2 separate regions of the Homo sapiens genome follow, and region 2 is linked to region 1. A link means that fine-mapping ties the variant in region 1 to the expression of a gene that starts in the linked region. Tissue or cell type: whole blood. Region 1 holds a variant in brackets; the other region holds the start of a gene. All regions are shown on one strand. Distances are from middle to middle.

The links. PIP is the estimated chance that this variant, and not a neighbour inherited with it, causes the effect.
Region 2: XPOT starts here. The variant in region 1 is fine-mapped to the expression of XPOT in whole blood (TOPMed, PIP above 0.99).

What each region holds. Positions count from the first base shown.
Region 1 is chr12:64,499,103-64,507,197 of GRCh38, reverse strand. TBK1 (TANK binding kinase 1) reads right to left here. Exons shown (of 21, transcript NM_013254.4): 21 at 5,084-5,868. The coding sequence ends at 5,817. LOC105369803 (a long non-coding RNA gene) reads left to right here. Exons shown (of 4, transcript NR_188079.1): 4 at 1-1,082. It also overlaps a transcript of RASSF3 not described here. Among named protein-coding and RNA genes, the nearest start is that of TBK1, 51 kb to the right of the region's middle. The variant G/C (reference allele first, on the strand shown) is at 3,906.
Region 2 is chr12:64,399,752-64,407,854 of GRCh38, reverse strand. XPOT (exportin for tRNA) reads right to left here and starts at 3,463. Exons shown (of 25, transcript NM_007235.6): 1 at 3,051-3,463. RefSeq lists enhancers at 1,865-2,741, 3,839-3,888 and silencers at 2,849-2,958, 3,289-3,448.

The sequences.
Region 1 (8,095 bases):
CCAGGAGTGTTCCAGAATGACTCGCTACAGAGAGCATGGATGAGGAGCACAGTAACACCCACATATGACACTTTAGCTGTGAACTGCCTTTCAGCCAATATGTCTGGGGACCACCTGTTAGCCCTAAATCCCCTTCCTCTGTCATTCTTTTGGCTTGTCCTTTAGACCTTGGCCCTCATAACTAGAAACTGTATTAATAGATGTTCTTTCTAAAGAAAGAGTTTTAAGCTTTCTTAAGAGAAGCTCTAACCTAATGCAACACTTGGTAATTTTCAAGCATGGACCTCCTGACCTCGTTCATAAAAACACAATTTTTTCATAGAGGAGTGAAAAAAAACAGGATCCACTAACTCAACTTCCAACAGAATTGTCAGTGGTAATTTGCAGGACTTAGTGGTGATGGACAAGCAATCTCCTAAAGCCATAGCCTTGATCCCATTTGTTTTGTGCATTTTTACTGGAAAAATGAAACCTATTTGAAACTTTAGCAGGAATTTATCCCAGAAAAAAAAAAATTAGTTCTTATGAGTCAAAAAATGTGTAAAAGGGCCAGGCACAGGGGCTCACACCTGTAATCCCAGCACTTTGGGAGGCTGAGGTGGGAGGATTGCTTGAGCCCAGGAGTTCAAGACCAGCCGAGCCAACAAAGCGAAATGCTGTCTCTAGAAAAAGGAAAAAAAAAGCTGGGCATGGTGGCACGTACCTATAGTCCCAGCTACTCAGGAGGCTGAGGTGGGAGGACTGCTAGAATCCAGAAGATGGAAGCTGCAGTGAGCTATGATAGCACTACTGCACTCCAGCCTGGGTGACAGAGCAAGACTCTTCAAAAAAAAAAAAAAGATGCAAAAGACCATTTTCCCCCAGGGTCCTATTTTGATCTTTAACCATTTATTGAACAATTCTCTAGAACTTCTAACATTGTAACATTACTGAATCCATTTCAGCATTTCAGCAGACATCAATGCCTAGTTGTCTACCACGCAGCTTGTACTGAGGTTCCCCATCATCACTCCTAAGACTATGTCTAACAGTTGGTCCTTGTGCATTCTGTTTATGTCAAAAGAAATAAACTTATTCATATATTCATTTAGGAGCTAAGTCGATTAAACAGCCTGATGTAATATTTGGGCTTGCTTTTTATATGCCACAGCAAATTTTTGGAGCTGATTTACTCTCTAAAGAGAAACAACGGATATTATTATATTGCCAGTTTTTATTTCCAGATCAGATGTTTTTGTTTCCTATTCCATTTTCAGTATTTCTTAGGAATTTGGACTTTGATTCTTCTTACAAGTGACAAGTGGGGAGCAAGTCTAACTAAAACAACAGTGTAAGAGTTTTTCAGGTCTTCTTAAAAGTGGGATGTGGGGTGGAGAATCCAGCTAAAATAGTAAAGATTTCTTTCAATGTTTTTCCCTTCAACTATGTGTGTCTGCCCCAGCACTTCTCAGTTTCAAAAATTTGTTTGAGTAATTATAAATTTTCTGCAGCACTTCCTCAAAGACAAAGCACAACATATAAAACACATCGGAGTGAGGTGAAATTAGAAACAAAAGACTAGCTCTTGGCCGGGTGCGGTGGCTCATGCCTGTAATCCCAGCACTTTGGGAGGCTGAGGCAGGCGGATAACCTGAGGTCAGGAGTTTGAGACCAGCCTGACCAACATGGTGAAACCCCGTCTCTAATAAAAATACAAAAATTAGCCGGGCATGCTGGTGGGCATCTGTAATTTCAGTTACTTGGGAGGCTGAGGCAGGAGAATCACTTGAACCTGGGAGGTGGAGGTTGCAGTGAGCTGAGACTGCGCCACTGCACTCCAGCCTGGGCAACAAGAGTGAAACTCCATCTCAAAAAAAAAAAAAAAAAAAAAAAAAAAAAGACTAGCCCTGGTGGTGGCTGTTCTGAAAGGGGAATAAATTGTTGACATTTCAGTTGAGAGTCCTTATTCCTACTGATAGTCCCTTTCTTAATTCTAAACAATGTATCTCTTACTTTTAACACAGACCACCACAAAAGGTAAACACTATTGCAAAAAACAAAAACCAAAGAAAAACAATCTAAACCAAAACAATCATAAAAAGTTCAGGATTATTGTAATTTTTTTCTGGATAATTTATGGATAAAGACACTACATTTGTAAAGAAATGTTGATTTTTTTTAATATCTAAGAAGCATTTCTTTTGACATGGTATAATCAGGTCTATAAGCCAATAATTTGGTAACCTCCAAAATAATGGCAGCTGGATTTTTTTTTTTTTTTGAGATGGAGTCTCACTCCGTTGCCCAGGCGCGATCTCAGCTCACTGCAACCTCCGCCTCCTGGGTTCAAGTGATTCTCCTGCCTCAGCCTCCCAAGTAGCTGGGACTACAGGTGCATGCCACTACACCCAGCTAATTATTTATTTATTTTTATTATTATTTTTTTTTTGAGATGGAGTCTTGCTGTGTTGACAGGCTGGAGTGCGGTTGGCATAATCTCACCTCACTGCAACTCTGCCTCCCAGGTTCAAGCAATTCTCCTGCCTCAGCCTCCCAAGTAGCTGGGACTACAGGTGCATACCACCACGCCCGGCTAATTTTTGTATTTTTAGTAGAGAAGGGGTTTCACCATGTTGGTCAGGATGGTCTTGATCTGTTGACCTCGTGATCCACCTGCCTCAGCCTCCCAAAGTGCTGGGATTACAGGCGTGAGCCACTGCGCTCAGCCTAATTTTTTATTTTTAGTAGAGACGGGGTTTCACCATGTTGGCCAGGCTGGTCTCGAACTCCTGATCTCAGGTGATCGGCCCGCCTCAGCCTCCCAAAGTGCTAGGATTACAGGCATGAGCCACCGTGCCCCGCCGGCAGCTCGAATTTTAGGAGACTTACTTAATGGGATTATTTTTCCCATTTCTTTCCTAACCTTACATTCCTGTTTATTTACTTGAAGCTATCCCTTATTTTTTTATTTTTTATTTTTGAGACAAAGTCTCACTCTTGTTGCCCAGGCTGGAGTGCAGTGGCACAACCTTGGCTCACTGCAACCTCCGCCTCCCAGGTCCAAGCTTTTCTCTTGCCTCAGCCTCCCGAGTAGCTGGGATTACAGGCGCCTGCCACCATGCTCAGCTAATTTTTGTATTTTCAGTAGAGACAGGGTTTCACCATGTTGGCCAGGCTGGTCTTGAACTCCTGACCTCAGGTGATCCGCCCGCCTTGGCCTCCCAAAGTGCTGGGATTACAGGCGTGAGCCACCGCGCCCGGCCAAAGCTCTCTTTTGATATACTTTATATTCACATATTTCACTTTTATTTTTTCTGCTGTCAGTACTATAACTTGTTTTATGCTAAGAGTTACATCTACTAACGCTTCTATTTTTTTTTTTAATTTTTTGAGACAGGGTCTCTCTCTGCCACCCAGGCTGGCAATCATAGCTCACTGTAACCTTTAACTCCTGGACTGAAGCAGTCTTCGCAGCTCAGCCTCTGAGTAGCTGGGACTGTGGCACATGCCACCATGCCTGGCCAATTAAAAAAAAATTTTTTTTTTTTTTTTGTAGAGACAGGGCTCTTGCTATGTTGCCCAGGCTGGTCTAGAATTCCTGATCTCAAGTGATATCCCTGCCTCAGCCTCCCAAAGCGCTGAGATTACAGACATGAGCCATCACACCCATCTTCTATTTGTTATATATACTATTTTTATACCATTAATTGCTATCTTTTCAAAACATTATAATATTTTTAAAAAGCTACTAAAGTGAAGATACAACTTATTTTAAAGCTAATTTCATTTAAATAGTCACTGAACATTAGCAGACTGGTATCATGCATTTATTTATTTAAAATGTTTTGAAAAATAAATGTTTTGAATGAGGATGCATTTTTGAGGGTAAAATACTGAAAGCAAGAATGCTTCTCTTCCATGTCACT[G/C]TAAGGGGGAAATAAAAGAGTAAATCTCAAAAAATACTACTGTGGAATAGATATATTCCTATCAATACTATTAATAAAAATACAATCGCCACATAAAGGTTCTATTTATTGGTGTTGTTTGCTAGAGGTGCTGAAATAAAAACTAAATTGGCAAATATATCAAATAATCACATAATTTGAGTAAAATTTTACCTAATATTCAGTGATATAAGCTTTTAAACTATACAAGATACCCATATTAGACGGTCAAATGGAAAATTAAAATAAAGAGGGATTAAATACTTCCTTGCCCCACACACTCTCAAACTAAACAGGTAACTGACAGTGGATAACTGTATTATTTAAATAAAGGCATTCACCCTTGCATTTATTTGTTACGTGTACATATGACGCTTAAAATTCTCCACTACAATAATGCATCATAATCTCACTTAAGATCCTAATCATTTCTTAAAACTGATGAAGTTACTGATGTTCTTGGTAGACAAATTTATTTCTCTTTAGGATATGTTATTTTTATGATACGCGGGTTTTATGTAATCACACTTCACCAGTCTGAAAAGCCACAAACCAAAACCAAAAGAAAGAAAAGTCCTGTTGGATGAAATAATTTCTTGCTGAGCACAATCCCTTAGTCTAGAACTCTGAGTATATTTTTCAGAGAAAATGTTCCTTTTCGGCTGGGCGTGGTGACTCAACCCTCTAATCCCAGCACTTTGGGAAGCTGAGGCGGGCGGATCACTTGAGGCCAGGAATTTGAGACCAGCCTGACCAACATGGTGAAACCTCATCACTACTAAAAATACAAAAATTAGCCAGGCATGGTGGTGCACACCTGTAATCCCAGCTACTTGGGAGGCTGAGGCAGGAGAATTGCTTGAACCTCGGAGGCCGAGGTTGCAGTGAGCAGAGATCACACCACTGTACTCCAGCCTGAGCAACAGAGCGAGACTCTTGTCTCAAAAAAAAAAAAAAAAGGAAATGTTCCTTTTCAATTTGTATAATAGCCTAAGTATATGAAAGAACTTCATACTAAATTTAGAATTAGTGGGTTTAGAAGAGACAGAAAATTGTCCCTAGATCCAATATTCTGAGTAGTTTATGATTATCATCTATATTGTTACTTTCAAAAGATAACTTTTGTTTCACAAACTGGATACAAAGAAACACATGAACTCTTTACATTAAAATTGAGAAATTTATTTTTTTCCATGAAATAGTAAGCAGAATTAAAGAAATATACAGCTTAAAACAGTTGAAATGACCTTAGAATTTTAATGACAATTACACATTTATGGCCAAAGGAAAAAAATGAATAGTTTTTAATAATGAATTCACTTTAAAATGTTTGCTTAATAATTCATCTGAAATTACATGGATACAAGGATAACTGGGATCTGGGCACCTTGTAAAATAAAATAATGCCACTTTATCCTTCTCAAAAAAATTGTTATCCCAGTATAACAGTGGTGCGGTTCTGCTCCCCACTCACAGTAGCCACCGTTCTACCATTTACAAACGTGTCAAGTCAGTCTTCCTGATTTGTAAGGATGCCTATTTTGGTTCCACTTAAAAATATTTCCAGTAGGCGGTCAGAGAAAATAACTTATTTAGCCCCACTCAGAGTAGAGGATCAGTATGTCAACATATTGGTCGGTCATGGCTTTCTTCTCGTGATCACTGAGGTCAAATTTCCTCATATAATTATAAATGTTAAAAGATAAAATTACATCTTCACAGCAGCCAAAAATTTGTATATTTTTTATGTATTTACAATATTGTACATATTTACACGACCACATCAAATACTGAATTGTAGAAACAAGTGACTATCTATAAAGGCATTCATTTAATGCCCAAGCGTTATTTTCTTGTGCAAACGGAAACTTTTCTTAAACTTCTATTAGAAAGCTAAAGACAGTCAACGTTGCGAAGGCCACCATCCATGGTTAAAGAGCCAAACCTAAAACACACACACAAAGAAAAAAAGGTAATCTCAAAAGTTGCATTTATGTATAAAGGCCCCCAACCTTAAAATACTTTTCAGAGGAATAAATAGCTATTTATTTTTAAAGAGTTTAAGTAACTATGATTTGTTCTATTTCTTACTGGAACAGCATGGTATTATCATAAATACATGAAAAACCGATGTAATGATGTAATTAAGAAACTGTCAGTAAGAACTGGATAATTTCTTTCTGGTGGGGTGGGATTTATAAGCTAAGATAGAATTGGGGCCGGCGCAGTGGCTCACGCCTGTAATCCCAGCACTTTGGGAGGCCGAGGCAGGCAGATCACTTGAGGTCACAAGTTTGAGACCGGCCTGGCCAATATGGCAAAACTCCTTCTCTACTAAAAATACAAAAATTAGCTGGGTGTGGTAGCGTGTGCCTATAGTCCCAGCTACTCGGGAGGCTGAGGCAGGAGAATTGCTTGAACCCGGGAGGCAGAGGTTGCAGTGAGCCGAGATCATGCCACCGCACTCTAGCCTGGGTGACAGAGTGAGACTTTGTCTCAAAAAAAAAAAAAAAAAAAAAAAGATACCGAGTTGGGAGTGTGACATACCCAAAGGAAGTTGAGAAATGAGACCTTGCTAGAACACAATGTTATTTTGGGGAGCAGTGGGAAGTAAAGTTGGGTGAACAGGCTGGAACCAGGCTATTACACTCTTTGAATTGAAGTATAAATTTAGACTTGACTTTTTAGGTAACAGGAGTTTAGAAACTTTTGAGCCAAAGAAGTCATACGATTACATCAGTATTCTGAAAGATGATTTTGGCTGTAATACCCATGACAGATGGGAAGAGCTTGGGGTTAAGAAAAAAAATAGGTTATTACCATATATCACATATGAAAGGGAAAGGAGATCTGAATGAGGGTGACGAGGGGAAATATGGGAGCCAAACTTGTTGAGAGGGTATAAAGAAGATTAAGTGTCTAAAATAATTTATGTTTAAGGGAGTAGGAGAAAGGTGGTACCTTTGAACAGGATAAGGAGCAGAGAGAAAACTGAGTTGGGACAGATGATTTTAGATTCAAAAAAAAATTTGAAGTGATAGTGGGTTATCCACATGGAGACAGAGTAGTATAATACTCTGAACAAAATCTGGCTTCCATTACTAGTTTTGTCACTTAACATTTACGTTAAGATTATGCCATGTTATATCACCTATATATTGTCAAGAAACCTGCAAATAAAACACAGGAGGAACTGACTTACTAAATGTGGTTTAGGAAGTTGGGATTTTATTCCACAAGGCATAAGTAGTTAAATATAAAAGTTAAAAGCACATCTTTGGCTGGGCACGGTGGCTCACGCCTGTAGTCTCAGCACTCAGGGAGGCCGAGGCAGGTGGATCACGAGGTCAAGAGATTGAGACCATCCTGGCCAACATGGTGAAACCTTGTCTCCACTAAAAATACAAAAATTAGCTGGGCATGGTGGCGTGTGCCTGTAGTCCCAGTTACTCGGGAGGCTGAGGCAGGAGAAACGCTTGAACTCGGGAGGTGGAGGTTGCAGTGAGCCAAGATCGCGCCACTGCACTCCCGCCTGGCGACAAAGCGAGACTCCATCTCAAAAAAAAAAAAAAAAAAAAAAAGCACATCTTTATAGTCTCTTCTACTTGGTGATCTTTAAGCCTAAAAGGATTTAGCTAAAGTTCTGAAGAAACTGTAAACTGGATACTATAAAAGTTAGATAATTACTATAAACAAGGAAAATATTTTTTAAAGTTAACGAGTAACTCTCCCCAAAAATGAAAATTGAACAAACATATTAAACGATGTTTGACATCACTATAAACCACAGAAATATAAATTAAAATAAGATCTCGGTTTTTACTAAACAAATTGGCGAATGTTTAAAAGATGTTATACATTCAATGTTGCCAAATGCATAGGTTTTATCTGCTTAGGACTATAACATGCACCCTTTTAAAGAACAAAATTGGCCGGGTGCGGTGGCTCATGCCTGTAATCCCAGCACTTTGGGAGGCTGAGGCAAGTGGATCACCTGAGGTCAGGAGTTCAAGACCAGCATGGCCAACATGGTGAAACCCCAGCTCTACTAAAAATACAAAAAACTAGCTGGGTGTGGTGGTGGGCGCCTGTAATCCCAGCTACTCAGGAGGCTGAGGCAGGAGAATCACTTGAACCCGGGAGGCAGAGGTTACAGTGAGCTGAGATCACGC
Region 2 (8,103 bases), 99 kb after region 1:
GGTTCATAACGTACTTGCAGACTTCAAGGCAGTGTAACTCCCTACTGCCCTCAGATTACGATCCAAACACTTTTGAATAACTCCTCACTATTCTGCACACCAGGTCAGCAAGGCCAGTGCTAGTGAACCATATGGCAGTTCTCCAGTGGTATTCTACCTTTCATCTTTGCACACTGCTCTTTCTTCTTGTTAGTAGGTTAACCCCTGCTGTCCTTTGAAATTCAACTTAGAAGCCATCTCTTTCAAGAACACTTCTTTGACCTCTATTGTCCAACTCTCCCAAATTGGATTACATGCCCCATCCTAAGCACTGCTATGCTGTCACTGCCAGCTTACTAGTTTTCTCTCATTAATCTTTTTTTTTTTTTTTTGAGACAGTCTCACTCTGTTGCCCAGGGTGGAGTGCAGTGACATGATCTCGGCTCACTGCAGCCTCTGGCTCCTGGGTTCAAGTGATTCTTCTGCCTCAGCCTCCCAAATAGCTGAGATTACAGGGGTGAGCCACCACACCCGGCTAATTTTTGTATTTTTTAGTAGAGATGGGGTTTCACCATGTTGCCCAGGCTGGTCTCGAACCCCTAATCTCAGGTGATCTGCCAGACTCGGCCTCCCAAAGTGCTGGGATTACAGGTGTGAGCCACCCGGCCATTTCTCACAATCTTAAAGGGCAAGGACTGTCTTGACTATCCATCACTATGTCCCTAGGACATAGTAGAGCATAGGTTTTGGATTTCAAAGACCTGGGTTTGTATCCCCATCTTGTCATTTTTTAATTGGGGCCACTTGGACAACTTACAAAACCTGAGAGAACCCTTTCTATGACATGGGAAAAAGACCATATGCCTCATAAAGTTGTAAAGGCTTCAAAGAGATAAGGTATGCAGAGCATGGCTGGCACATAGTGAGCCCTCAATACGTTGTTTATAGTCAGAGGTAGGAACATGTGGAATGGAAACGACTTGGGGCATTCTTATACCAGATCAGCATTTTTAAAAGACAGAAAAACACAAAGAAAGGCACTGGTTCCCTTCGCCCCCTAAATGTTAAGAAAATCTGATGTCCATTCCCCTGAAAAATGCCCACAGAGAGAAAAAACGATTTCGGAGTTTCTAAGAATCCCTGATTGAGAAGTCCAATAAAAGCTTCCTTGAATTTGCTATGGCTTTTTAAAAAAATGCTGGCCAGGCAGGGTGGCTCACGCCTATAATCCCAGCACTAAGGAAGGCCGAGGGGAGGGGGGCGCAGATCAACTGAGGTCGGGAGTTCGAGACCAGCCTGACCAACATGGAGAAACCCCGTCTCTACTAAAAATACAAAAATTAGCCGGGTGTGGTGGCACATGCCTGCAATCCCAGCTATTCGGGAGGCTGAGGCAGGAGAATCGCTTGAACCCGGGAGGCGGAGGTTGCAGTGAGCTGAGATGGCGCCACCGCACTCCAGCCTGGTCAACGAGAGCGAAACTCCATCTAAAAAAAATTGCTGGCTGGGCACGGTGGCTCACGCCTGTAATCCCAGCATTTTGGGAGGCCGAGGTGGGCGGATCACGAGGTCAGGAGTTCGAGACCAGCCTGACCAACACGGTGAAACGCCGTCTCTACTAAAAATACAAAAATTAGCTGGGCATGGTGGCCTGCGCCTGTAATCCCAGCTACCCAGGAGGCTGAGGCAGAAGACTCGCATGAACCCGGGAGGGGGAGGTTGCAGTGAGCGGAGATCGTGTCATTGCACTCCCGCCTGGGCGACAGAGTGAGACACTGTGTCAAAAAAAAGAAAAAGTGCTTAAGCTTGGTCAAGTCACTCTGAAGCTATCGGGAGAAAAATGAAGTGGCCCTAAGGAAAACATAGCCAATAAACCCAAGGAAACAAACTAGTTAACAGTTGTCACTACAGAAAGAATCCCCCACATAGAAGGCATTTGGACGATCAATATGCAGTGGAAGGCCGGGCGCGGTGGCTCACGCCTGTAATCCCAGCACTTTGGGAGGCTGAGGCGGGCGGATCGCGAGGTCAAGAGATCGAGACCATCCTGGCTAACACGGTGAAACTCCATCTCTACGAAAAATACAAAAAGTAGCCAGGTGTGGCGGGGCGCACCTGTAATAGAGCTACTCGGGAGGCTGAGGCTGCAGAATCACTTGAACCTGGGAGGCAGAGGTTGCAGTGAGCCGAGATGGCACCACTGCACTGCAGCCTGGGCGACCGAGCGAGACTCCGTCTCAAAACAACAACAACAAAACCCCAAAAAATGTTTCAATACGGTAAACAATTATGCATCTTGCAAAGGTTCTTGGGGGAAGGCAAGCAACATACTTAAAATATTAAGCCTTAACTTTTCCTGGATAGCCATTAAGAATCAAACAATTTGGAAAAATTCCTCTACACCTACTGAAGACTGTTTCAAATACTACGACTGAATCTTTCCAGCCTTTTAACACCACGCTGACAAGTCGGTTTAATAAAACGTAACTCTCCCCCAACCCCCGCCCGCCACAACTAATTAGCACTTTCAAAAAGTACTCGTTTTTCTGGTTACAGGGAAACCTCATGCTTCTCTAGTCCTGCAGGATGGTGAGGAAGGTTTGAGAAGAAATGGAGCGTCCGTGCTGGCCAATTACTGCACAGAAATAACACTTTTCCTTTTTGTCCAGGGGTGGGGGAAGAATCAAGTTTGAGGTCTCCACAGTTGATAACGCTACAACGATGACTAACGGGCTTCGGAACCACAGGCGATGCCGACCCTCCTCTGCTAGCCTTGCTCCCATCCCTCCCCCGATCCCTCCCCTAAAGGAAGCCTCGTGGCAATTCGGGTGATGAAACACCAAGCAACCGCCGGCCACGCACTCGGGACGCGCTCCTCGGCGGCGGCCCCGGCTCGTACCCACCCCCACCCGGTCCGCCCAGCCAGGGGGTGCACCGCCATAGAGGGTCCCAAGCCTGCACCCTCCCTGGCGTCGGGACTCCCCCGGGCCGGTCCGCCCCGGCCAACTTCCTCGAAGCCTCACGCGGACCAAACCTGGTCCCGGTCCCGCTGCCCCCGAGCCCCGAGTCACCTTCCCTATCACTCCATCCCGCCTCCCAGCCTGCACTCCAGATGGTCAGCCAGCGGAGCGGAGCGGCGCGGCACGCAGAGAGCTGGGAGAGCGGCCCTCGTCCTTGTCGCCGTAGTCCTCCGCCACGGCCGCAGCTACAACGCCAGAGACGGTGCTGGCCGGGACCGCGCGCCTCTAGTCGCTCTGCGTCCCCTGGCACCTTCTCTTGCGTGGCGCCGGGCAGGCAGGCAGGCAGGCAAGCAAGCAAGCAAGCAAGCGGGCGGGGTCGGCGCCCCAGGAAGGGAAAGAGCGCGAGGGCCGGCTAACGCCGCCGCCGCCGCCGCAGCCGCCGCCGCCGCTGAGTCAGCGCGAAGCGCGCTCCCCGCGTCGGTGCCGCGCGGGCGGGCGCCGGCGCCAGCAGTCTCTTGGAGAGTGCGGGCGGCAGCCCGCGGGCTGACGCCGGAGGCCTACAACTCCCAGCATGCAGGGAGCGGCCGGCGCTTCCGGGCGGCGAGGCGCACACGCGCTCCCTGGCGCTCGCCGGAAGGCGTGGTCACCGGGGCTTGAGGTGCATGCCGGGATGAGGCATCCGGCCCAGGAGTCCCTACCCAGCTCCTAAATCCCCGGCTGTGTCTGCGTGGTGTCAGAGCTCAAGCGTCAGGTTCGCCCCGAGCATTCCACAAAGGGCTTCTAGTAGTTGAGAGTACGGATTCACGAATCAGGATGACGTGGTTCTAACCACGTGTGAGTCAATTTAATTGCTTGTCTACGGCCCCAAGTGTCCCGAGTACAGCAGTGTAAAGCTCTGATGAGTGCTGACAGGTTTTCAAAATTAATTAATTAATTTATTTATTTATTCTTTGAGACGGAGTCTCGCTCTGTCGCCCAGGATGGGGTGCAATGGCGAGATCTTGGCTCACTGCAACCTCCGCCTCCGGGGTTCAAGCAGTTCTCCTGCATCAGCCTCCTGAGTAGCTGGGATGACAGGCGCGCGCCACCATACCCAGCTAATTTTTGTATTTTTCGTAGAGACAGGGTTGCACCATGTTGGACAGGCTGATCTCGAACTCCTGACCTCAAGTGATCACCTGCCTCGGCCTCCCAAAGTACTGGGATTACAGGCGTGAGCCACGGTGTCCGGTCCAAAATTTATTTTAAACAGACTAAAATTTTGTCCATGAAAAGAAGGAGAGCATTCTTAGGAAGTCCTACTCACGGGATCTTTCGATGCTACTAAATGTCACTTCATTTATTTGGTCACAGATTTATTAATTTATTAATGCAACATAGAGGCAGTGTAGGCTTAGGCTGCCTCGACTTGACTGCCACTCCGCCTCCTCACTAGTTGACCTCAGGCACTTTACTTTAGTCTATCCATGCTTCAGTTTACTCGTATGTAAAATGGGGATTGTTAATAGTACCGACCTCAAAGGGTTTCTGTGAGGTTTGAGTTAATACATGTGTTTGACACACAATGTGCTCAATATTTACATTTCATTGTTGATTATTCAATGTGTACTAAATACAGACTAGGTTGCTGCCACAGACTACAAACAAAACTTGGAGAGGGAGGAATGGTAAGAGCATAGAATAAAACTAATGTTTTAACAGCTACCTTTATTTAGCTGTCCAAGACACTACACCAGGCATTTCCTATATAAAATACCTTGAATCACTCTTGCATCATGTTTCTAATTTATGTGTTTAAAATGTCAGGCTAGTGGCTACAAGATGTCGCTAAAGGAGAACTGGGTTTTAATTTTTTCTTGTTTTTAGAGAAAGGGTCTCGCTCTGTTACCCAGTCTGGAGTAGAGTGGTCATAGCTCACTGCAGCCTTGACCTCCTGGGCTCAAGCAATCCTCCTGCCTCAGCCGCCCAAGGAGCTGGGACTACGGGTGCATACCATCATACCTGGCTATTTTTGTTTGTTTTTGTAGAGATGGGGACTTGCTCTGTTGCCCAGGCTGATCTCTAACTCCCAGGCTCAAATGAACCTCCCACCTCAGCTTCCCAAAGTGTTGGAATTACGAGTGTGAGTCCCTGTGTCAGGCCTTAATTTTCTTCACGCTGCTCTCAGTTGGCTTCCCAACGAAATAGGTTCTTTGTTGTTCTGGCATACAAATTTTCTTTTGATTGTAATCCTTGCATGCATTATGTTTCTACTATTCAAATTATTAATTATTCAAATTAATTATAAACAAGAAGTATCTCTTGTTTTACTTCTGAGAAAACCAAAGTCATGGTATTCTCAAGACTAGAGATAATTCAACAAAGCCTGTGAATCTCCCTCATTTGGAATCTCTCTGGGCCCAATCTGTTTTCCACTGCTAGGGCGCTGCTGCTAAAGCTATATCATATGAAACCACCCTCCCTAAAAGCTCAGGGACCATCTCCAAATAGGAGGGCGAGTGAAACTGTAAGAGCTGGATTGATGGGTGGAATCTGGAAGCTAAAGTAACTCCATCTTTGGTACTAATCTGCCATGTTGGTTTCTGATTAACCCTGTTCCCGGAAGGCCTTTAAGATTTCAAGTTGTGTGAGAGCACATACTGTAAATTCTGCCCTTACGTCAAAACAGCCTTGATGTTATTGTACTTCAGTTGTCTACACATCCTGACGTGGTTTGGCTGTGTCTCCACCCAAATCTCATCTTGAATTGTAATTCCCATAATCCCCTCATGTCATGGGCGGGATCAGGTGGAGATAATTGAATCATGGGGTTGGTTTCCCCCACCCTGTTCTCGTAATAGTGAGTTTTCATGAGATCTGATGGTTTTATAAGGGGCTTCCCCCTTTGCTGGGCACTCATTCTTCTCTCCCCTGCCACCATGTGAAGAATGATGTGTTTGCTTCCCCTTCTGCCATGATTGTAAGTTTCCTGAGGCCTCCTCAGCCCTGAGGTACTGTGAGTCAATTAAATCTCTTTCCTTTATAAATTACCCAGTCCCAGGCATTCCTTTATAGCAGTGTGAGAACAGACATAATACACATCCCTTCTGAATTACATATACCCTTTCCATATGGGGGTTAATGGTGAGGGGATCCACCATCTTGTTTCACTGCTGCTGGAGACACAGGCATGGCTTTTTTCACAAGTTGCTATGAATGTTATTTCTAAGAAAAAAAATCTCAGGCTAGGATTTCTGCCCTACCTATTTCAGTATATCTTTCGAGTCTAGCACAGTGCCAGCCTGCTAGTTTCAACTCAATAACTGAATCATTGCATGAATTCTTATATTAGCTGTGATGATCAACTGTGGAGTATGAAGGCCCAATACTAATCTTGGGCTGAGTGCCTCTGCAATCTGTATGTTCAGCATATTCCAGGCCTCATCCTAAAGAATATGGCAATTCAATCTATCGTATTATAGATGTCTTTACTTGCTGTTTTGTTTGTAAATTCATTTTATGGCTACTTCTTATGTTGAATGTTATACAAAGCCTATCTTCAGTTTATCTACAGTTTATCTACTAACATTAGCTCTTTCGTTTATGGTAGTTGAAATACCTAGAATTGTAGAAATCTCTTTCAACTTTGTAAACTCATATTATTTCAGAACAAATAAAGAGGCTAGGCGCGGTGGCTCATGCCTGTAATCCCGGCACTTTGGGAGGCTGAGGCAGATGGATCACAAGGTCAAGAGATCGAGACCAGCCTGGCCAACACAGTAAAATCACGTCTCTACTAAAAATACAAAAAAAAAATTAGCCGGGCATGGTGGCACATGCCTGTAGTCCCAGTTACTTGGGAAGCTGAGGCAGGAGAATTGCATGAACCTGGGAGGTTGCAGTGAGCCGAGATTGCGCCACTGCACTCCAGCTTGGGCAACACAGTGAGACTCCATCTCAAAAAAAAAAAGCCGGGTGTGGTGATGCATGCCTGTAATCCCAGCACCTTGGGAGGCCGAGATGGGTGGTTCAGGAGGTCAGGAGTTCAAGACCAGCTTGGCCAACATAGTGAAACCCTGCCTCTACTAAAAATACAAAAATTAGCAGGACGTGGTGGCACATGCCTGTAGTCCCAGCTACTCGGGAGGCTGAGGCAGGAGAATTGCTTGAACCGGGAGGTGGAGTTGCAGTGAGCTGAGATCGCACCACTGCACTCCAGCTTGGGCAACAGAGTGAGACTTCATCTCAACAACCACAACAACAACAACAACAAAAAGAACAAATAAAGAAGCACTTGGTAGAATCCAACTGAAGAGGACCTAAGAGAGGTATTACATTTGACCATTCCATATTCTGCCTCCTCCGTCCATGAAGGGATGGGCAGTTTCTCATCTCAGATGAAAATGTTAGTCATCAACATGTTGACAAATAACACTATCATTTTGTAACTGCCCAAAAGGCTCCTTTTGTAACTGCCCAATAGGTTCCCTGCTGCCTAGACAGACCCAATTTATCAAGATAGGGGAATCTCAATAGAGAAAGAGTAATTCACATAGAGCTCCCTGTATGGGAGACTGAGTTTTATTATTATTCAAATCAGTCTCCCTGAGCATTCAGGGATCAGAGTGTTTAAGGCTGATTTGATGGATGAGGGAAGGTCAGTGAATTGAGAGTGCTGATTGGTTGGATCAGAGATGAAATCAGAGAGAGTTGAAGCTGTCCTCCTGCGCACTGAGTCAGTTCCTGGGTGGCGGCCACAAGATCAGATGACCCAGTTTTTTGATCTGAGTGGTGCCAGCTGATCTATCAAGTACAGGGTTTGCAAAATATCTCAAGCACTGATCGTAGGTTTTACAATAGTGGTGTTATCCCCAGGAACAATTCGGGGAGGATCAGAATCTTGTAGCCTCCAGCTGCATGATTTCTAAACAATAATTTCTAATCTTATGGCTAATTTGTTAGTCCTACAAAGGTAGTCTAGTCCCCAGGTAAGAAGGGTGTTTTGGGAAGAGGCTGTTATTGTCTTTGTTTTAACTATAAACTCTAAACTAAGATCCTTCCAAAGTTAGTTCAGCCTATGCCCAGGAATGAACAAGGACAGCTTGGAGTTTAGAAGCAAAATGCAGTTGGTCAGATCAGATCTCTTTCACTGTCTTGGTTATAATTTTGTAATGGTAGTTTCAAT